3 linked regions of the Homo sapiens genome follow. The protein of the gene in region 3 interacts with the protein of the main gene of each other region in a pairwise test. Each region holds a gene or a part of one and is shown on either strand. Other genes may lie near its edges.

Evidence for each region.
Region 1: the proteins of DAPK3 (region 3) and LUZP1 interact in binary tests that used the Homo sapiens proteins (3 or more experiments, as listed by UniProt).
Region 2: the proteins of DAPK3 (region 3) and TCP10L interact in binary tests that used the Homo sapiens proteins (3 or more experiments, as listed by UniProt).

Annotation. Positions count from the first base shown.
Region 1 is NC_000001.11:23,158,317-23,165,977, forward strand, and holds part of LUZP1 (leucine zipper protein 1), read right to left. Parts: intron 1-7,661.
Region 2 is NC_000021.9:32,574,984-32,582,644, reverse strand, and holds part of TCP10L (T-complex protein 10A homolog 1), read left to right. Parts: intron 1-229; coding exon 230-445; intron 446-3,813; coding exon 3,814-3,951; intron 3,952-5,721; coding exon 5,722-5,871; 3' UTR 5,872-7,661. Other genes in the region: CFAP298-TCP10L (uncharacterized protein LOC110091775), read left to right, coding at 230-445, 3,814-3,951, 5,722-5,871. UniProt on the Homo sapiens protein: May be involved in transcriptional regulation. Has in vitro transcription inhibition activity. Acts as a tumor suppressor in hepatocellular carcinoma (HCC) cells.
Region 3 is NC_000019.10:3,967,721-3,975,482, forward strand, and holds the start of DAPK3 (death-associated protein kinase 3), read right to left. Parts: upstream 3,380-7,762; 5' UTR 3,201-3,379; intron 2,110-3,200; 5' UTR 2,016-2,109; coding exon 1,954-2,015; intron 1-1,953. UniProt on the Homo sapiens protein: Serine/threonine kinase which is involved in the regulation of apoptosis, autophagy, transcription, translation and actin cytoskeleton reorganization. Involved in the regulation of smooth muscle contraction.

The sequences.
Region 1 (7,661 bases), on a different chromosome or scaffold from region 3:
CTTTCCATATTGTTTGTTGTTCTGTGAAATTTTTCTTGTAAAAGATGGGTTAGGCTAGGCGCAGTGGCTCACGCCTGTAATCCCAGCACTTTGGAAGGCCAAGGCAGGCAGATCACGCGGTCAGGAGTTCGAGACCAGCCTGGCCAACATGGCAAAACCCTGCCTACTAAAAATACAAAAATTAGCCAGGCATGGTGGCAGGCGCCTGTAATCCCAGCCACTTGAGAGGCTGAGGCAGGAGAATCACTTGAACCTGGGAGATGGAGGTTGCAGTGAGCCGAGATCGTGCCATTGCACCCTGACCTGAGTGGCAAGAGCAAGACTCTGTCTCAAAAAAAAAAAAAAAAAAAAAAAAAAAAAAGGGTTGGGTCCAGGCATGGTGGCTCATGCGTTTAATCCCAGCACTTTGGGAGGCGGAGGTGGGCAGATTACCTGAGGCCAGGAGTTCAAGACTAGCCTGGCCAACATGGTGAAACACCGTCTCTACTAAAAATACAAAAATTCACCAGCTGTGGTGGCAGGTGCCTGTAATCCCAGCTATTCAGGGGGCTGAGGCAGGAGAAGCCCTTGAACCCGGGAGACAGAGGTTGCAGTGAGCTGACAGAGCAAGACTCCATCTCAAAAAAAAAAAAAAAAAGAGATGGGTTGGGGGTAAGAGAAGAAGTAATCTCAGTTTAGCTTATCACATTCTGTTCTAATCATTTTGACTACAGTTTACCAGAGACTTCAAAATTTGATTACTGGCCAGGCACGGTGGCTCAGGTCTGTAACCCCAGCACTTTGGGAGGCTGAGGAGGGCGGATCACGAGGTCAGGAGATTGAGACCATCCTGGCTAACATGGTGAAACCCCATCTCTACTAAAAATACAAAAAAATTAGCCAGGCGTGGTGGCGGGCACCTGTAGTCCCAGCTACTCGGGAGGCTGAGGCAGGAGAATGGCGTGAACCCGGGAGGCAGAGCTTGCAGTGAGCCGAGATCACACCACTGCACTCCAGCCTGGGCTACAGAGCGAGACTCTGTCTCAAAAAAAAAAATTTGATTACTGCTCCCCTCCCAAAGATAAAAATCTAGCATAGAATTAATTCATGCCAAAGATGTCACTAACTGGCATTCTTTTAAAAAACCTCAGTATCTGACCCTCAACAGCTTGTGACACTGGATATCTAGCTTCTGTGTGTACCAGTTCCTCATCTGTAAAATGGGGTTAAAATAATAAACTATATACTTACTTCATGGGTGTGGTGAAGAATACATGAGATTATGAGCTTGAAACATGATAGGTACTCAATAAATATTTGTTGAGTGAATGAGTAAATAAACTAATGTATGAAAAATGCTTAGGATAGTGCCTGTCACATAGCCAATGGCTAATAATATCAGTATCACGCCAGACGCGGTGGCTCATGCCTGTAATCCCAACACTTTGGGAAGCCAAGGCAGGCGGATTACTTGAGGTCAGGAGTTCGAGACCAGCCTGGCCAACATGGTGAAACCCCTGTCTCTACTAAAAATACAAAAATGAGCTGGGCATGGTGGCATGCGCCTGTAGTTCCAGCTACTCGGGAGGCTGAGACAGAAGAATCGCTTGAACCCAAGAGGTGGAGGTTGCAGTGAGCCAAGATCACGCCACTGCACTCCAGCATGGGCAACAAGGGTAAAATTCCGTCTCAAAAAACAAAAACAAAAACAAACCAATTACTACATTACCCTGTAATATTCTGATGTAGTTTCATCAGAAAAGCCAAAATAATCACTGATTTAAAATACACAGTAGGTACCTCCTAAAAACTAATTTAAATTTACCACTTAATTTGAAATATGTACTGAGTTAAATCAACTAAGTTGCTACTAATTTAAATTTGCATTTAAATTGGCTTATAGAACATTCTTCTGCCTTTAACACAAGAGGAAGAGTAACTACTGAGAGAGCTTACCCATCAGACAAAGCAGCTTTAAGCAGATTTAATTGGCTCAAGATTTGCTTTGTTGACATCAAAATAAAATGTTAGTCAACAGAAAATTCAAATAAAGTACTACCTAGTGTCTTGTTTCTGTTAGTAATTCCAATCTGAGAACATTAAACAAGCACTGATAAAGCATTTTTTCTAAGAAGGAACTCTGCATAGTTAATTCTACACCAGTGACAAGTTCCAAAGGAGAATCTGCTTTGTGGCATTAGGACTGGACTCCTGTACTTTCACACCCTAATAGTCTCTATATCGCCGGAAGCAGTTGGTGCACTCCCGGCCTTTAGATTAGAGAAAATACTAAGCAGGATTCTAATAAAAAGAATCCAAGTTAATAAGCTTAAGAAATTAAAATTGCTACCTATACATAAATATCATTGGTCATCAAAAACTCTACTAAAGACCTACTATGTGCCAGTGAAAATAACTGAGGAGGGCATTAGCTAAAACAGCTTCTGATCGAGAAGCTTCCAGTCAAATTAGCTAATTAAGATATTAATAGAAGCTGGTCAAGTTAACCAAAAATATGAGGGGTACTGGCATAACAAGCTACAAGATTTCTGAGAAAATAAGAAGCTTTTGATACAACTAGGTAAAATAAGATATGTGATAGTGTGATTTTCCATGAACACAAGGTGGTACTGGCAATAAATGCTATAAAATTTTAGAGAAGAAAGATTAACTGTTGCAAAACCATGATAGACTTCAAAGAGGGAGAACTGAGCTCAGTCTTGAGGGGTGGAAAAGATTTAAATAGTTAAACAGCATAAGAGGAAAGGACAAAAGATAATGGGACCAAAGGTGCTGAATTGGGAATATGGCCATTAAATATTTATTAAATACCTACTCTATGTCAGTCACTGTGTTAGGCACTAGAGATACACTGGAGAACAAAACAGATGAGTTCTCTGCTTTCATGGAATCTAGCAGGGAAGACATAATAATCATGCACGCAGATATATAATCATAAATTGCAATAGGTGCTATGAAAGGAGGCAACAGAAGCCAGTAATAGGGAATAATGGGAAAGGACTAGCAAGACACGATGATGAGAAAAAGTATCCCTGATATTTATACATAAGCTCAGGCATGAAGGCAGCCATGCAAAGAGCAGGGAAAAGAAGTGTTCGAGGAAGACAGAGCCATGCATACAAAGGCCCTGAGGTAGGAAACAGCTCACTGAGTTTAAAAATAAATAAGGCCAGTGGCTCATGCCTGTAATCTCAGCTACTCTGGAGGCCAAAGGACAGCTTGAGGCCAGGAGTTTGAGACCAGCCTGAGCAATATTGTAAGACCCCATCTCTAAAAATTAAATAAAATAAGAATAAAAATAAGAAGTTAGCGTAACAGAGGCATAATGGGCAATGAGATTGGCATAAAATGCCAATTGCCTACCCGAAAAGTAGCCAGGAGACGGGCTATACAGGGCATTATAGGTCAAAATAAAGAACTGAAATGGCCAGGCACAGTGGCTCACGCCTGTAATCCCAGCACCTTGGGAGGCTGAGGTGAGTGGATCAAGAGGTCAGGAGTTCATGGCCAGCCTGGCCAACATAACATGGTGAAACTCCGTCTCTACTAAAAACACGAAAATTAGCCAGGCGTGGTGGTAGGCACCTTTAATCCCAGCTACTTGGGAGGCTGAGGCGGAGAACGGCTTGAACCCAGGAGGTGGAGGTTGCAGTGAGCTGAGATCGCGCCACTGCACTCCAGCCTGGGCGACAGAACGAGACTGTCTCAAAAAAAAAAAAAAAAAAAAAAAAAAGCTGAAATTTGAATTTTATTCCAAATCTAAAAACCACTAAAAATTTTTGCACGGTCACATTAGTGTTAAATAAAAGGAGCCAGACCACAAACAATATATACTATATGATTCAATTTTTACAAAAGTACAAAAAAAGAGCAAAATAATCTATGCTGTCAGAAGTCAGGATGGTGATTACCCTGGGTGGTAGAGGGGAGACAGGAACTGAAAGGGAACTGGATAGGGGCTTCTAGGTACTGGTAACGCTGTTTCTTGATCTAGATCTAGGTGCTGCTTACATGGGTATATTCAGTTTGTGGGAAAAAAACATCAAATTCCACTTTTACATGCATTTTTCTGTATATGTATTATATACTTCAATCATAAAGTTTTTAATAACGTAATATACTTTTATTTTTTTTTTTTTTGAGACGGAGTCTCGCTCTGTTGCCCAGGCTGGAGTGCAGTGGCGTGATCTCGGCTCACTGCAAGCTCTGCCTCCTGGGTTCTCGCCATTCTCCTGCCTCAGCCTCCCGAGTAGCTGGGACTACAGGTGCCTGCCACCATGCCTGGCTAATTTTTTGTATTTTTAGTAGCCACGGGGTTTCACCATGTTAGCCCAGCCCATAATACATTTTTAAAATACTATTTTGTCCAGATAAAAACAGGAATAGAGTGCTCACTTCCACAACACAAATACTAAAATTGGAATGGTACAGGGAAGATTAGTATGTGCCCTGCACAAGGATGACATGCTAATTCATAAAGCAGTCCATATTTTTAAATTTTTTTGTAAAAATAAAGAAACAAACGGTATAAAGGGGCACATGCAAATACGGCAGGTCTTGAATGAAAGATTACCCGGGTAGAAGCTTTCAGAGGAGTAATTCAAACAGCCAGTGATACAAAGTACCATGTTAATAAAGAATAAGGCTGGGTGCGGTGGCTCACACCTGTAATCCCAGCACTTTTGGAGGCCGAGGCAGGCGGATCACGAGGTCAGCAGCTCGAGACCAGCCTGGCCAACATGGTAAAACCCTGTCTCTACTAAAAATACAAAAATTAGCTGGGTGTAGTGGCAGGCACCTGTACTCCCAGCTACTTGGGAGGCTGAGGGAGAAGAATCGTTTGAACCCGGGAGGTGGAAGTTGCAATGAGCCGAGATCACACCACTTCACTCCAGCCTGGGTGACAGGGTGAGACTCTCTCAAAAAAAAAAAAAAAAAAAAAGCATGTTGGGGCCAGGTGCCACTCATGCTTGTAATCCCAACACTCTGGGAGGCCAAGGTGGGAGAATCGCTTGAGCCCAGGAGTTCAAGACCAGCCTGGGCAACAAAGCAAAACCCTATCTCTACAAAAAAAAAAAAAATGTTTCTTAATTAGCTGGGCATGGTGGTGCACACTTGTAGTCCCAGCTAATCGGAGGCTGAGGAAGGAGAACTGCCTAAGCCCAGGAGTTCAAGGCTGCTGTGAGCTATGACTGCCACTATACTCCAGATCGAGAGAAAGAGTGAGATCCCGTCTCTTAAAAAAAAAAAAAAAAAAAATGCTGAGTCTGGGAAGGAAGTTGTGCAATACTAAAGGATTAACTATCAATTCCTTAGAACATAAGGAGGAATCTCCAGAAATTAAGAAAGTCATAGATGACAACAGCAATGCCTAAAAAGGTTAGCAATGCTTGTCATGTTGTGGCTCATATTTTAATATGGTATTTTCAAGCTCTTCCCTTGACCCTCCACTCCCATACAACTGAGAGTGTAATGACATAGACCCCAAACCTGAGCATCAATCATACCTGAGCTCGAATCAATGGTCTGCCCCTCACTTGCTCTGGCAGTTAACTGCTCTGAGCTCAGTTCCCTCATTTATAAAATAAGGATAATGACTACCTCATAGAGTTATTATTTTTTCAAAGGTGAACAGAGTAGTCACTTCTGCAGCACAAATACTAAAACTGGAATAATACAGAGAAGATTAGCATGTCCCCCGCTCAAGGAGGGAACACTATTATAGTCACCCCTTTGAGTAGATCTAAAGGGTTATTTTAATTATTATTTCCTAATGGTATACGGAGGACCAATGGTGGATTTAACAAGAATTCCTTTGCTTCGGGCAGAGCAAAAAAAAAAAGTTTCCATTCTCAGACAAATCCATGGGTGAGAGAAGGGCTTATAAAATAGTCACCGGCTGGGCGCGGTGGCTCACGCCTCTAATCCCAGCACTTTGGGAGGCCGAAGCGGGCGGATCACGAGGTCAGGAGATCGAGACCATCCTGGCTAACGCGGTGAAATGCCATCTCTACTAAAAATACAAAAAATTAGCCGGGCATGGTGGCGGGTGCCTGTAGTCCCAGCTACTCGGGAGGCTGAGGCAGAATGGCGTGAACCCGGGAGGCGGAGCTTGCAGTGAGCCAAGATCACACCACTGCACTTCAGCCTGGGTGACACAGTGAGACACCGTCTCAAAAAAAAAAAACACAGTCACCATACAGAAACAGAATGAATAAAGATAAAATCAAAAAATAAAGAGAAGGTAGAAATGGGGCTTCTTCTAGAAGCTCACTAGCACAGGTTCCAGGCATTTTCTAAGAGACAGAGACTTGAGCTAAAGCATACTGGGAGAAGTTCAGTGACTTGAGAAATTATGAAAAGGAAGAAACAATCTTCCCCGCAAGCCACAATTGCTACCTAATGTATTCTTCCCTTTGTGGAATATTACTTAAAACAAGTTAGAGATCAACACTAAGGATATTCTGTCATAGGTGGAAGGGCAAGGCCTTCAACCACTTTACACCATCCCCACCCTTAAGTATTATTTGAACAACCATAATTTGTTAAGCGCTTCTTAAGCACAGCCAAAGATGTTAAGTTTTATATTTCAGGAGCTACCATTTCAAAAGAAAAAAAATAAAAAGTTCAACTCCTTAAATCTTTTGGTAACTTTTTCCCCAAAATGTATCCTCTGTCTTAAAAGTAACTAAAATCTACTTCCTCCTGAATTTATTTATCTTTCCCCTAATCCAATAAATGTCTCTCCTTATTCTTCCTATTTACCTCACCATTAAATACCGAAGGTTTTCCTATTTCCTCCCAAGTTGGCACATTAACACTCTAATATTCATTCTGATCTCACAGTATTGAATCTGAGCATAGAAACCTCATAACATTCCCAGGGATAAATCTGCTACCCAATTCCTAAAAGATAACACACAGTTTAAAAAAATAAACACAGTGGTGGTAATTATACAACTGTATACATGTGTCAAAATTTGTCAAACTGTACACTTAAAATTGGTGAATTTTATTGTATGTAAATTATACCTCAATAAAGCTTTTTTTTTTTTTTTAAAGAATGCATTCCGGGCAGGGCATGATGGCTCATGCCTGTAATCTCAACACTTTGGGAGGCTGACATGGGAGGATCCCCTGAACCCAGGAGTTCCAGGAGACCAGCCTGGGAAACACAGGGAAACCTCATCTCTATAAATAAAAAAAAAAGTTAGCCAGGCATGGTGGCACACACCTGTGGTCCCAGCTTCTCAGAAGGCTGACGTGGGAAAATCACTTGAGCCCAGGCAGTAGAGGATGCAGTGAGACATCATCACAGCACTGCACTCCAAAAAAAAAGGGAATACATTCATTACATTCATTCATTCACTCATCAAATATTTGCTATGCATCTATTATATGCATCAAAGTTTATACCACATCTTTCAGCCTGGACTATCCGGGTCCTACCTGTAACAGCATGCTTTACTCATAAGTTGACACTGTCCCTAAAAGCTGTATTACATGAAAAATGATTCTGTTTCTGATAATGTTACCTTAATGATGGCCGCTTTACACTGGAAGGGCCATTAGCTATCCATCAACTTCCATTACATAAATGAAATATATGATCACTTAGGTACTCCCCATTTTAACAGAAATGCTTTCATCATAAGAAATAA
Region 2 (7,661 bases), on a different chromosome or scaffold from region 3:
CTCCAGCCTGAGTGACTGAGTGAGACCCTGAAAAAAGAAAAGAAAAGAAAGAAAGAAAGGAAAGAAAGAAGAAAGAAAAAGGCTGTGGTAGTCCTGTTTATCTCATCGGGTGTCTTTTATTCCAGAAATAGTGTTGGTCTTACATCAGAGAGGGCTTGAGTATTTTGCAGATAAATGTGCCCATTGTGACATCTGAGAGGTTTTTCTGGTGTTCTCTTCCCAATAACAGCCATTACAGCAGCAGATCATCAGACTCCACCAAGAGCTTGGGAGACAGAAGTCTCTGTGGGCTGATGTTCATGGAAAACTCCGGAGTCATATAGATGCTTTGAGGGAGCAGAACATGGAGCTCCGAGAAAAGCTGAGAGCTCTGCAGCTGCAGCGGTGGAAAGCCAGGAAGAAATCTGCAGCGTCCCCACACGCGGGGCAAGAATCGCACACTCTGGTACCAAAAGCGCATTTATGTTTTTGTACCGTTTGCGTTATGTAAAAATAGCGTCCCCATAAAGATGTGGGCTTTATTGCTGAATGACGCGGTATCACTCACGCTCCGGGTGGTGGGAGGGGTTGCTATCTTTCCATCAACTCCATTTCCCGTAAGTAATGATTAATAAGAACTGGATACATCAGGCCTCTCACCTGGCACTCCAGCAGACAGAAGCATTGCCGCCCCCAGGCCGTGTGTCTCAAGTCCAGAATTCTAAGACATCTCATGATGTCTCAGGACAACAGCAGCAAACCCTTACTGTGGACTTTACATGGGCTAGGTACGGAGCTTTACGGTCTTACTCTCTATGACGACCCTATGAAATGGATCCTATTACTAACCCCATCGTGGCCACGGGCTGGAGAACGTAGAGCTGGGATTTGAACCCAGGGTGACTCCAGAGCCAGCTCAGTAGCCTGGTGTCCTTCTGTTCATCCTCTAGGACAGCTGTGTAGAATGCAATAGAGACCTGTTGAAACGGGAAAAGTTCCCTTGTCCCCCTCGCAGGGTGTGCGATGGGGGTGTGGCTCGCTTCTTTGGTTCCCCACTGCTCAAACCTCTAGGGGAGTGTACAGACCGGCAGGCTATGGGGCTCTGACCCCACGGCAGTGTCTGGGGGTGAATGTTTCCAGCTGAAGCCCCAGAGGGTGTGTGTTACAGTGCGGGAGCTCTTTCAGTTTACCCCTCCGTAGGCAGCTTGTGTTTATCAGCTCAATTAGACCCTCTGCCTTATCACAAGGACAGAGGGCTTTCTGTATCCTGGGTTCTTGCCTTGGTGTACCTGAAAAATCAGATCACACATGGGCTTGGAGGATGGGTGCAAGGTTTTTTATTGAGTGGTGATACCTGTCAGCAGATGGGGGAGCCAGAAGGGAGATGGAGTGGGAAGGCAGTTTTCCCCTTGGGAGTTGGGCTGCCCAGTGACCGGGCTCTCCCCTGACCACCCCAAGCAAACTCCGTGTCATTCCGCCAGTCGATGGCCTGCTGGCGTCTGCTGTGTCTGCTGGTGTGCTCTTCTGCCGGTGTGTTCTTCTCGACATCCAGCCGCTTGGTCTCTGCCCGCTAGGGTCTTGGGGTTTTTATAGGCATAGGATGGGAGTGTGGCAGGCCACGGTGGTCTTGGGAAATGCAACATTTGGGCACAAAAGCAGAAATGCGTAGGTCCATGGGCACAGGCCCAGGGGTCGAGCCCTAGCCAGGGACCCCGTTCTTCTCCACCCAGGACTTTCCTGCCCCCATCCTGTATCACTAACCTGCTCTATCCCGAACGAAGAACCAGCATTCTCATGCTGAAGTAGTGGGTGCCTCCCAGCACCAGCCTGCCTCTACAGAACACTGAGCTTTCACGTTTGATCACACCGCTCAAAGAACCAGCCTAAGAGAGTGTGAATGTGGCCAGTGTTATCACTGCCTTGTCTGGGTTCTGTTTCCTGCATATGGATCTAAATAACTTGAATCATTAAAATTATACATACAGGTAACAACACATGAAACCACATGAACACCCTCCAAACGTAAGTGGGGATATTTCTTAGTGGATTAAGAAAAGTACTAACATTTCCTAGCTGCATTTATTGTGTGAACTTTTAAATCGGTACTTCCAGGACTTAGAATATTTCCGATACAGCACAGTGATTACAACACACACACACACACACACACACACACACACACACACACAGGCACCCACCGAATACATTCCAGAGGAGACTGCTCTGTGGTTTGTTCTCCAAGCACAGCAAAAACAGCCACAGCTGGGCGCGGTGGCTCACACCTGTAATCCCAGCACTTTGGGAGGCCGAGGCAGGTGGATCGTGAGGTCAGGAGATTGAGACCATCCTGGCTAACACGGTGAAACCCCGTCTCTACTAAAAATACAAAAACATTAGCCAGGTGTGGTGGCGGGTGCCTATAGTCCCAGCTACTCGGGAGGCTGAGGCTGGAGAATGGCCTGAATCAGGGAGGTGGAGCTTGCAGTGAGCCGAGATCGCGCCACTGCACTCCAGCCTGGGGGACAGAGCAAGACTCCGTCTGAAAAAAACAAAACAAACAAACAAAAAAAACTGCCACAAGTTCCTCTACAAGAAATTACGGGAAATCTTGGAAGTTATTCCCACTCTTCGGGAGCTCTGCGAGAGCTTTGTTTCCATGGAGATGGCTTCTGCTGCCTCAGAAAGAAAGTGAGTTTAGCCTCTCAGCACAGCAAAGCGCCGAGTCCTTCTGCGGAAGGAAGAGCAGAAGCTGGGCAGGCTGTTCCTCTGTCAGAGGAAGAGTGGGGGAAATTGCCACAAATACTGGCCGGGATTGTCCACCTTCTGTGGGGAGAACCCAAGAAGACTCACAGGGATTTTTTTCCCTACATATATTGTATGCCAGTTCCTAAAAAATAGTATCTACTGCCCCATTTGGGTCATTGTATAACAATTACCCTAAGAGTCAATGAAGTCTTATTCAGTCTTCACATGCCCTGCAGTTTTGATCATTCTCTTATTTTGAGATTAGAGCTTGGTGAATTTCCAAATATTTTTCCATTCTGTGCATTGCACTGGTCACCGTGGGGCTATTTATAAGAACAGGATGTACGCTCACAAGAGCATACCTGATTTGAAGAAACAGGATGGGATATGTGAATCCCACACTTTAAATATGCGAAGGTGTATCTGTGTGTAGTCGCCGTTTTAGGGACTGAATATCTAAAAGGCTGAGACTCGAGCACCCACAGAACGCGGGCATGGCTGTGTGGGTGAGCCACTCTGGATCTGATATTAAGGGTTCGTTCATAGCAACCCTCTCCCCTTCTCATTCCCTTCTCCTCCTCAGAGGGCAGAACGGTGAATAATTTAGCATTCCAGACCTAATATACCTCATCCCACCTGAAGGATCACCCTGTTCCAGGTCAGTCTGCTGATAACAGGGAAAGTTGGGAATTTGCATTTTGGATCTTAGACAAGTTGTAGAGACAACACTAGAAGTAGTATCACATTTTCTTCCTCCGTTAACACACTCCCGGTTGAAGACACAGGAGCCTAAAGGAAGATATGTTGGGGATTGTTTGTTCTGTAGCCTTTGGGATCCTGTGATCATTTTGAAACAAGGAACCACAATAAGAAACACAAAGCAAACATCGGCTCCACAAAGGTTCCTTCACAAACGCTTGGTGAGGGTTTCTGTTCTTATCAACATATTAGGGGGAAAACCCAGTCCAAGTCCCCCTACCTTGTACCCTATTTTTTTCTAGGACATTCCAATTATTCTTCATTGTATTAAAATTTGAATTTATTTTACCTTCGAAAATGTGAAGAATTTCCCTGCATTTTGTCTTTTAGGCATTGGAACCTGCTTTTGGAAAAATTTCACCTCTGTCAGCTGATGAAGAGACAATACCCAAATACGCTGGCCACAAGAATCAGAGTGCCACTCTCCTGGGACAAAGATCGTCATCTAACAATTCAGCTCCTCCAAAGGTGACCCTTTGTGCTTATCATCTGTAAAGAGAAGCAGAGGTTCTGTACCCAAACACACACATCCCATCAGCTCCTCACCACACAATTTCACCTCCCTGGGTGAGCATGGTGCTCCCTGGAGTCCTGTGTTCTTCCAAGGACACGGGTACATGCCTTTCAAACAAGATCCTAACCCTTAGCACTTCTTGCTGTGGAGCAGATTCCAAGTCCTCCCGGCTGCTTCCCTCTGAGTACACTCACAGCAGCAAGCGTCTGGCTGGGGCCGAGGGGACTTGGGGGCTTTGTTTCCGTGGGTGCAGGCTGCGGAGGTGATGTGTGTGGCACTGTCTCCACCCGTGAGTCTGAGGGCTCGCAGCCTCCCGTGCTCCCTGCTTCTGCACTGCGGTCTTGCACCTGCTGCTTGTCGGCGTGGACTCCTCTGAACAGGGGTGGCGCTGTTAGCTTGGGAGCCACAGTACAGGATGCTATTTTGTCTCTTGTTGGGAATAGGCCCCCAGATCTGGCCATAAACTGGCCCCAAAACTGGCCACAAACAAAATCTCTGCAGCACTGTGACATGTTCGTGATGGCCATGATGCCCACGCTGAAGGTTGTGGGTTTACCAGAATGATGGCAAGGAACACCTGGCCCACCCAGGGTGGAAAACCGCTTAAAGGCGTTCTTAAACCACAAACAGTAGCATGAGCGATCTGTGCCTTAAGGACATGTTTCTGCTGTGGATATCTAGCCAGAGCCCATCCCTTTGTTTTGGCCCATCCCTTTGTTTCCCATAAGGAATACTTTTAGTTAATCTATAATCTATAGAAACAATTTATCACTGGCTTGCTGTCAATAAATATGTGGGTAAATCTCTGTTCACGGCTCTCAGCTCTGAAGGCTGTGAGTGCCCTGATTTCCCACTCCACATGCTATACTTCCGTGCGTATGTCTTTAATTCCTCTAGCACTGCTGGGTTAGGGTCTTCCTGACCGAGCTGGTCTCGGCAGTCTCTATCACATTTTTCTTTGTTAAAATTAGCTCCTCTTTAGAACATTCTCCCAGCCAGTGTGTCTCTTCCTGTCCCAGCTTTGTGTCACCCTCATACTCAGGAAGCAAATCTCGTGAGTCCACAGCCAGCAACTGATACTGGGTTGATGTGGATGGAGAAGGCGCCCCCAACTCCTGAAGATGATTTATCCCCTCGCATTCTTTCCCAAAGCAACTGCTGAGCAGATAACACTTTATTCCCTGAAGGAAGATCAGAAATCTACTCCAAGCATTTGTCACAAGTAGGAAAAGAGCCTTTTCAGATCCTATGAGTACAAAACATCGTAAGTCCCAGGGTGGACTGCACAGGCCCAGCCTCCTGTGAGACGCGGACTTCTCTCATGCTCCATCATTGACCTGAGTTAATCACAGGCATGCGGGGCAATGTACGAGTAAATAGATAACTGAATGGGTGGCTTATCCACGCCTTGAAACCATCAATTGTTAAATAGTGCAAAATGTAGAAAATTATTTTTATTATGCATTTTTGAATTGAGTTTCAAGCACTTTATTTCACTGTTGACTTTACAATATCAGCCATGTATTGGAATCCCAAATTTCACAAGAGCGTGGGCTGTAAAATGGGGAATGAGAGACACTAAGTGTGGATACCTCATGTGTCCTTCTGTAGGAAGGGGGAGTAGAATCATCTACATTCTGTGATAGCTGGTATGATGTGTTGCTTAACATTTAAAAATAATATAATTGTTACTAATGCAAAAATATTCCCACATTTGTTTTCAGCCAATGAGTTTAAAGATAGAAAGAATTAGCTCGTGGAAAACACCACCACAGGAAAATAGAGATAAAAATCTTTCCAGGAGACGTCAAGACAGAAGAGCAACACCTACTGGAAGGCCAACTCCCTGTGCAGAGAGACGGGGGGGTGTCTGAAGATGGAAAGGTGGCCTCGGACACCTGTGTCACTCTACACTGGCCCCTTGGAAAATTCAGATTCAGATAAAGTTCCACTTAGGTCTAATAAAAGTACTCAATTTGTTATTCAAAATAGACCTAGTAATTTATTAAACTAATTATGTTTCTATAGATAAAAACTTGAAGTTCTTCAGACATGTCTCTAATGCTATAAAAGCAAACAACTTGGATTGGGTTTTATAAATCAGTTGCTTTCCTGAGCTCTGTAGTTGGTATATTTCTGCAGAGTCTTTAAAAAAATTAACCCACCTTGTAGTATGGAGTGTCGGGCTGTTGGGTGAGCCCTGGGGTCTTGCTGGAAATCGAGGATGGCTGAAGATGGCTTTGTGCTCCCAGCCTTTGGGCTCAAGGCATTGCCCGCTCCAGGGACCTTGTGACAAGGCGGGCCTGTGACTGTCATTGCCCCAGGCTATGCATCCATCTTCCCGAAGTCTGCAAAACTTGAGTGGCAGAAAATCACCAGTGCAGGCTTCCCAGGCCGCCATGCTGCAGGAGCAGATGGCAGCAGCCGGAGGAGCTGGTGAGCAGAGTTGGGGACTCCTGTTTCTATGCTCCCCGTGAAATGCGGGGCTTTCTCGTGGATACGCGTGAGCAGAACATCTTACTATGGCAAGGACATGTCCTTCCTGGAGCTGCCTAATTTGTGGCCACTTTTTGTCTGATTCCCTCGTTGGGTCCTCACCTGTGAGACTTGCCAACACCCCCAGCCCTCCACCCCACACACAGCCCACATGCCGGTCTCCAGGGGCCGTGACTGGAGATTCCGAATCCTAGCGGTCACTTCCCTCTGAGCACACTCCCAGCAGAAGGCGTGTGGCTGGGGCTAGATGCACTTGGGTGCTTTGTTCCCCTTTCTCCATTTGCCAGCCCATGGCATTGCTGCCACCCTGATGGAGCGCCCTCTCATCTGGCACCTTCCTGGCCTCTTTCCCAGGCCCCAGTTCTGTCCATGCAGCTGTGGGTGCTTCCTGCATTGCGGGTCTCACGGGGAGGAGACGAGAGTGCCCCTGGTTGAGTCAGGAAAGAATTCTATCTTCACGTCGCTGCCAGCAAATGACCACAGCAGCTTCACGACCTCTGCAGGAACCTATCTTGGTAAAGAAACGGGGCCTATGTGGTGGCCGAGCCTCAGGTGTGGCCGAGCTTCAGGTGTGGCCCTTATGCACAGCACAGCCCAAGCCTGTGGGCACCACTCGCCCTGGGCTGCCTGGCACCTGGACTCCTTCCCATCCTTGGCCGAGGTCTGCGTGGCCCTTCAGGGCCGAATCTGACACTGTCTTCCTCCTGAGTCTGCCCCCCGGGCTTCCTGCCCACCCCCAGGCTGTTTCATGGCCTCTGCAGGGAGCTTCGTAGAGGTGAGGCTGGTGCCATCTGTCTGCTTCAGACCACCTCAGGCTCTGCGTGCCCTCACAGTCCCCTCTGCACTTCTCTGTGGGGCAGGGAAGCCCTTCCCATCAGGTCTGCTCCAGCCTGGCTACCTTGTTCCTGCTGTCCCCTCCCCTTCAGGCCCCCGGACAAGACTTCAGTGTACTTGCTGGTGCCGGGCAGAATGGGGGACCTTGCCTCTCACACACACCTGCTAGTATCTCCGCAACCTCCAGGCATCATCTCAGCTGACAGTGACGCCATCCTGGGGAAGCTCCCCTGACTCCTGGCTCTCCTGGAAGCCTGTGGTGCTCCTTCACAATGGCCCGTGGCCCTTCATAGGTCCCGTAAGCCAGTGTCACAGGGATTCGGCTTTTCTCTTC
Region 3 (7,762 bases):
CTCCAGTCTCGGCAACAGAGCCAGACACCGTCTCAAACAAACAAACAAAAATTGCTACATTCTGGGCCTTCATCTTGCACTTCATGTATCTCTGAGAATGTTCCAGACCACTACCTGAAGCAGTGCCGTCAGAACAGCAGACACTGGCCACCCAGAGCTGTCAAACCCGTGAGGTGTGGCCAGTCCCGAGAAAAACTGCGACATGAAATACACACCAGACCTCCAAGGCTTCACGGCAAAAACAGAAGGCTAAATACTTTTTTTAAAATTATGAATTTCTGTTTGTTTGAGAGATGGGGGTCAACTTATGTTGCCCAGGCTAGTCTTGAAGTCCTGGGCTCAAGCGATCCTCCCGCCTTGGCCTCCCAAAGCGCTAGAATTACAGGCGGAAGCCGCCGCACCTGGCCCTGCCTGGTTCTTTTTACAAGCTGCATCCTATTCCAGCCCTGATGCAGTGGTTTGGGGAAGGCCATTTAAGAGGCTGCTGTTCCCAGCGGGGTGCGGTGGCTCACGCCTGTGATCCCAGCACTTTGGGAGGCCGAGGCAGGTGAATCACCTGAGGTCAGTAGTTCGAGACCAGCCTGGCCAACATGGTGAAATCCTGTCTCTACTAAAAATACAAAAATTAGCCAGGGGTGGTGGCGGGCTCCTGTAATCCCAGCTACTCGGGAGGCTAGGCTGGAGGCCGAGGCTGCAATGAGTCGAGATCGCATCACTGCACTCCAGCCTGGGCGACAGAATGAGATAGTGTCAAGGAAAAAAAAAAAAGGCTGTTATTCTGGTAAACGTTCTAGCAACTACCCCAGTCTTAAGTCATTCCATCCATGTATGTACAGTTTTCCAATGAATTAATTCCTAGAGGTGAAATCGGCGAGTTAAAAGAAATTTGGCTGAATTTTGCTGACTTTTGCCAAACGACCCCTAGCAGGAGGGGTCAACACTGAAGCATGAGAAGGGGGAGGAGGGAGCATGCTTTCTCTGCCACTAACGAGGAAATTCCTGAAGGAGGGACCTCAGGATCCCAAAAGAGCCTGCAGCACTCTCCCTAGCCTGACACAGAGCTCACTTATTTACATTCCCTTCTGGTGACATCATGGGGAGGCTCCAGGGAGGCTGGCCAGTAGCAAACTCACCAAATAAGGCTGGAGGCTCTACAAAAGGAGGCAGGGCCTAGTGGTGCCTGGCTAGTCTGGAGGGGGTGGGGCCCCAGGGGGACCCTCCAAGGCCCAGACAGGCAGGAAATCAGCTGCCTCCCTGGAAGAGGAAACCTCTGCTTTTTCCCACAAGCATGTTAAACAATTGACCGAGGTTTGGGCCCAGCTGGGAGACACGCCCCTCCCTCCCCCCACTTTAAACATCCAAGAGCTGGGCAAAAAAACTAAAGTGCCTCCCACAAAAGAGGATTAACACAGGGAGATTTTTTTTTTTTTAAATAAATGGGGTTTCACTCTGTTGCCCAGGCTACAGTGCAGTGGCACGATCATAGCTCACTGCAGCCTCCTCCAACTCCTGGGCTCAAGCCATCCTCCCGTCTCAGCTTCCCTAGTAGCTGGGACTACAGGCATGAGCTACCACACCTGGTTAATTTTTTTTCATTTTTATTTTTTGTAGGGATGGAGTCTTGCTATGTTGCCCAGGCAGAAGACACATCTTTTAATAACAAAAGCAGCTGGCATCTGTTGCTCTGGTGCCCCATGCCAGGCACGGTCTTGGCTGCTGTAACGGCTCAATTACTTTTCTCCCCACAGGAAACACACAGAGGATTCCCAAGCAGGAATTCACAGCCGGGGCTGTCTGACTCCACGGCCCAAATTCGTTCCCCCACCGCATGATACTGACTCATTCCTTCTCAGCATACAGGATAAAGAACAGGAAAGGAGAGCTGCTGTTCAGAAAACCCCACAGCGCCTCTCTCCTATCCCTGGAGCCCAGCCGTGCGGGCAGACAGCTCACCTGCCCAGCTCCTCCCCCATCTCATAATGGTCCTCCACGTCCTCCTGCCTGAACGTGGACATGGCGGCCGGTCCGCCTTCCAGCAGCTTCCACTCCAGGGAAAGTGCAGTCACCGCAGCCTGGAGATAGGACCTCAGGAGTCCCCTAATGGCAACCCTGGAGAAGACAGGGAAAGACAGAAGTGAGGAACTGAGACACCACCCTTTTCTCCTAGATTAATGGACAGACCTGTCCAGCAAACACAAGCCTCCCACCTCTCCACTCTGAAGCTCCAAACTCGACAAAAAGAGGTGCTGTGTTTACTGGGCTGGGTCCTGTCATGTCACCTCTTAGAGCCCCATAACCACTCAAAAGTTTGGTAACAGCCCCACTGGGCCACCTTCACCCCGCAAAACTCTCTCCAGACACATAATTCTGATTTCCCCGACGCTGCCTGCGTCTTTTTTTGCCTCTCACTCCTAGACTTCTCTCAACCTGCTCAGCCAAAATCCCCCACCATTCCTGCACGTTCTCCTCAACCTCAAATCCCAGGGCTACCTTACTCCCTGGCCAATGTCTTAACGAAGTTCTCAAGTCTACTTCTTTTGTTGTTGGTGTTGTTGTTTTTTGAGAAGGAGTCTCGCTCTGTCGCCCTGGCTGGAGTGCAGTGGTGCAATCATGGCTCACTGCAGCCTGGAACTCCAAGGCTCAAGCGATCGTCCCAGGCCTCCCAAAGTGCTGCCATTCCGATCAAAATTCCCAAGTTACTACCTTAACCCCTCCTGGTCCTTGCCCTCGGCAGGTCTCTTAAGACCCTCATCGATGGAACACCCCCGCCCACCCCCAACCATCTCTGACTCCCTCCAATTCTGAATTTTCCAAGAACCGGACGACGCCTTCCACGCTCCTGAAAGCCCACTTTGCCTCCCTCCCCCGCTGACCTCCACTGTCCTCGCAAGATTAACCTCTTCCTCCACGCTCCATGTATCAAAGTCCCCCAACCGCCGTCTCCCCTACCCCCCAAAACGGGCCGCCAAAAAGGGCCCCATCTGAGTCTCCTCCACCGTCCTCTGCCCCTTCTCGCCCGCAATCTCCGCACAAGCCCCTAGGCAGACCCCAGTGGCTCCCTTTGCAGAACCTCCCCCCGCCCCCAAGGCCTTGCCCATCCCTAAGGCTCCGCTCCAGCATCCCTGGGGCCGCTACGCCCCTCGCACGCCCGGCCGAGCCCTTTCCCCGGCCCGGTCACCCAGATGGGTCCCCAAACCTACCAGCTCCTCAGATTCTCTCCCTCCCTCGTCCTCCGCGGGCCCCCGAAGCGCCGCTCTGGCCCCACCCAGCCCTCCAGCCTCGGCCCGAGCCCGCTCTTTACCCTCCGCAGCCCGGAGAATACGGCCGGCGCCGCCGCGCTGGCCACCGCCGCCGCCTCCAGAAGCCCCGCGCCCCTGCCGCCGCGACGCGCCTGCGCCGACGTCACCGCACCCGCCAGTGCCCACCCCCGGGAAACGAACCCCGCCGCCTATTGGCCGGTGCGCCCGCCGCTCGTGCCGCACCTCGACGTCCCGCCCCCAGCTGCCTTTTCGGCACCCACACCCGGATGCAGCCTCACCACTGGCTGAACACTCGCCATCCCTGATTTCATTGGCTGCAGTCGACGCTGGTCAAGCGGACGGAAAAAAGGCCGACTTCCGGTCCCTTCATCGCCCCGCCCGCCTCTCCTCTGACCCAGGTGCTGAAGCTGCGAGAAGTGAGGCTGAAGCCCTGCATCCCGCTTCCTGCCTTCCTGGAGCACCGGTTGGGCGAATGGATGGCTCACCTGTGGCCGAGCGCGCCTGGCAGCTCCTGGAGTGGACCCTGGGACTGCTTTAGTCCCTATGTGGCAGTTTCCTCCACTGAAAACTGTTACCCACATTCTAAATACTTAAAATGCAAATGAGGTCAATCTGGGGTTGTCATACACAGGGTCCCTCTTCGTCTCAAAATAGAGGGTAACAGCAAGCATTTTATTGAGACATAGTATGTGCCAACTGACAACACTGGGAGGTATCAGGTTTGTTTTTTTTTTAATTTTATTTTTTGAGACAGGGTCTCACTCTGTCACCCAGGCAGGAGTGCAGCGGCGGTATCCAGCTCACTGCAACCTCCACCTCCCGGGTTCAAACGATTCTCGTGCCTCAGCCTCCCAAGTAGCTGGGATTACAGGTGCCCATCACCACGCCCGGCTAATTTTTGTATTTTTAGTAGAGACGGGGTTTCACCATGTTGCCCAGGCTGGTCTCGAACTCCTAAGCTCAGGTGATCCGGCACCTCAGCTTTCCAAAGTGCTGAGATTACAGGCGTGAGCCATTGCGCCCGGCCTAAATTCATTTTTTATTATTATTTTGAGACGGAGTCTCGCTCTGTCACCCAGGCTGGAGTACACTGGCACAATCTCGGCTCACTGCAAGCTCCACCTCCCAGGTTCACGCCATTCTCCTGCCTCAGCCTCCCGAATAGCTGGGACTACAGGCGCCCGTCACCACGCCCAGCTAATTTTTTGTATTTATTAGTAGAGACAGGGTTTCACCGTGTTAGCCAGGATGGTCTCGATCTCCTGACCTCCTGATCCGCCCGCCTCGGCCTCCCAAAGTGCAGGAATTACAGGCATGAGCCACCTTGCCCAGCCTTTTTTTTTTTTTTTTTTTTTTTTTGAGACAGTCTCCTTCTATCGTCCAGGCTGGAACGCAGTGGTGAGATCTGGGCTCACTGCAATCTCTGCCTCCTGGGTTCAAGCGATTCTCCTGCCTCAGCCTCCCGAGTAGCTGGGACTACAGGTGCACGCCACCACTCCCAGCTGATTTTTGTATTTTTAGTAGACGCAGGGTTTCACCATGTTGGCCAGGATGGTCTCAATATCTGTGATCCGCCGGCCTCGGCCTCTCAAAGTGCTGCGATTACAGACGTGAGCCACAAGCCGGCCTTTATATTTTTTATTTACATTTTCAACGTACAATGGGTTGGCCAGGTGTGGTGGCTCACGCCCGTAATCCCAACAGCTTGGGCAGCCAAGGCGGGCAGGTCACTTGAAGTAGGAGTTCAAGACCAGCCTGCTCAACATGGTGAAACCCTGTCTCTACTAAAAATACAAAAGTTAGCCAGGCCTGGTGGCACATGCCTGTAATCCCAGCTACTCGGGAGGCTAGCGCAGGAGAATTGCTTGAACCCAGGAGGTGGAGGTTGCAGCGAGCCGAGATCATGCCACTATACTACAGCCTGGGTGACGGAGGGAGACTCCATCTCAAAGAAAAAAAAGTGGCAGGGCATGGTGGCTAACGCCTGTAATTCCAGCATTTTGGGAGGCCACGGTGGGCAGATCACGAAGTCAGGACATCAAGACCATCCTGGCTAACACGGTGAAACCCTGTCTCTACTAATAAATACAAAAAATTAGCCGGGCATGGTGGCGGGTGCCTGTAGTCCCGGCTACTCGGGAGGCTGAGGCAGGAGAATGGCGTGAACCCGGGAGGCGGAGCTTGCAGTGAGCCAAGATTGAGCCACTGCACTCCAGCCTGGGTGACAGAGCAAAGACTGTCTCAAAAAAAAAAAAAAATTCAGCTTCCACATACCATCTTAACGTTTGCACTACTAAAAAAGAATAGGACCCGGTATGGTGGCTCACACCTGTAACCCCAGCACTTTGGGAGGCTGAGGCGGGCTGATCTCTTACGGTCGAGCTTGAGACCAGCCTGGCCAACATGGTGAAACCCCATCTCACCTAAATATACAAAAATTACACAGACCTGGTGATAGGCGCCTGTAATTCCAGCTACTCGGGAGGCTGAAGCACAAGAATTGCTTGAGCACTTGAATCCGGAGGCAGAGGCTATAGTGAGCCAAGATCACAACACTGCACTCCATCCTGGGCGATAGAGTGAGATTCTCGAAACACAGTAATCCGTTACCCTGACTGCTGGAAACAGCGTCAGTTACAGCCCCAATTCAAATGCGACAGCCAAACCAAACCTCAGGCATACCTACATGTGGGCAAAACCTCAGCTGAGGCTTGGCCTTGACAATGCAGGGCCAGAGCTGCCCCCGCCTTTGCCGAGAACCCCACAGCCCTACTTCACAGTCCCCACCTGCCTTCCTGAGGACAGAGTAAAAGGCGGAAAATGATCATGTTAACCTTATCAGCACTGACAAGATTAGGCCTCCTCACATCTTAGGCACTATTTAGAAAAACAAATAGTTTTCTAAGCTATTGGCGCTCACACCTGAAATCCCAGCACTTTGGGAGGCTGAGGCAGAAGGATCGCTTGAGCCCGGGAAGGAGACCAGCCTGAGCAACATAGTGAGACCCCATTACTACAAAAAAAGTAAAAATTAGGTCAGCACAGTGGCTCACGCCTATAATTCCCAGCACTTTGGGAGGCCGAGGCGGGTGGATCACGAGGTCAGGAGATCGAGACTATCCTGGCTAACACGGTGAAACCCTGTCTCTACTAATAAATACAAAAAATTAGCCGGGCATGGTGGCGGGCGCCTGTAGTCCCGGCTACTCGGGAGGCTGAGGCAGGAGAATGGCGTGAACCCGGGAGGCGGAGCTTGCAGTGAGCCAAGATTGAGCCACTGCACTCCAGCCTGGGTGACAGAGCAAAGACTGTCTCAAAAAAAAAAAAAAATTCAGCTTCCACATACCATCTTAACGTTTGCACTACTAAAAAAGAATAGGACCCGGTATGGTGGCTCACACCTGTAACCCCAGCACTTTGGGAGGCTGAGGCGGGCTGATCTCTTACGGTCGAGCTTGAGACCAGCCTGGCCAACATGGTGAAACCCCATCTCACCTAAATATACAAAAATTACACAGACCTGGTGATAGGCGCCTGTAATTCCAGCTACTCGGGAGGCTGAAGCACAAGAATTGCTTGAGCACTTGAATCCGGAGGCAGAGGCTATAGTGAGCCAAGATCACAACACTGCACTCCATCCTGGGCGATAGAGTGAGATTCTCGAAACACAGTAATCCGTTACCCTGACTGCTGGAAACAGCGTCAGTTACAGCCCCAATTCAAATGCGACAGCCAAACCAAACCTCAGGCATACCTACATGTGGGCAAAACCTCAGCTGAGGCTTGGCCTTGACAATGCAGGGCCAGAGCTGCCCCCGCCTTTGCCGAGAACCCCACAGCCCTACTTCACAGTCCCCACCTGCCTTCCTGAGGACAGAGTAAAAGGCGGAAAATGATCATGTTAACCTTATCAGCACTGACAAGATTAGGCCTCCTCACATCTTAGGCACTATTTAGAAAAACAAATAGTTTTCTAAGCTATTGGCGCTCACACCTGAAATCCCAGCACTTTGGGAGGCTGAGGCAGAAGGATCGCTTGAGCCCGGGAAGGAGACCAGCCTGAGCAACATAGTGAGACCCCATTACTACAAAAAAAGTAAAAATTAGGTCAGCACAGTGGCTCACGCCTATAATTCCCAGCACTTTGGGAGGCCGAGGCGGGCAGATCACTTGAGGTCAGGAGTTCGAGACCAACCAGGCCAAGCAAAATTCTGTCTCAAAATAAATAAAAATTAGCTGGGCATGGTGGCACATGCCTGGAGTCCCAGCTACCTGGCAGGCTGAGGCAGGAGAGTCCAGGAGGTGGAGGATGCAGTGAGCTGACTGCACCACTATACTCATCTGGGAGACAGCAAGACTCTGCCTCTAAAAAAGTGTTTACAAGGCCGGGCACAGTGGTACAATCCCAACGCTTTGGGAGGCCAAGGCGGGTGGATCACAAGGTCGAGTGATCAAGATCATCCAGGCCAACATGGTGAAACCTCATCTCTACTAAAAATATA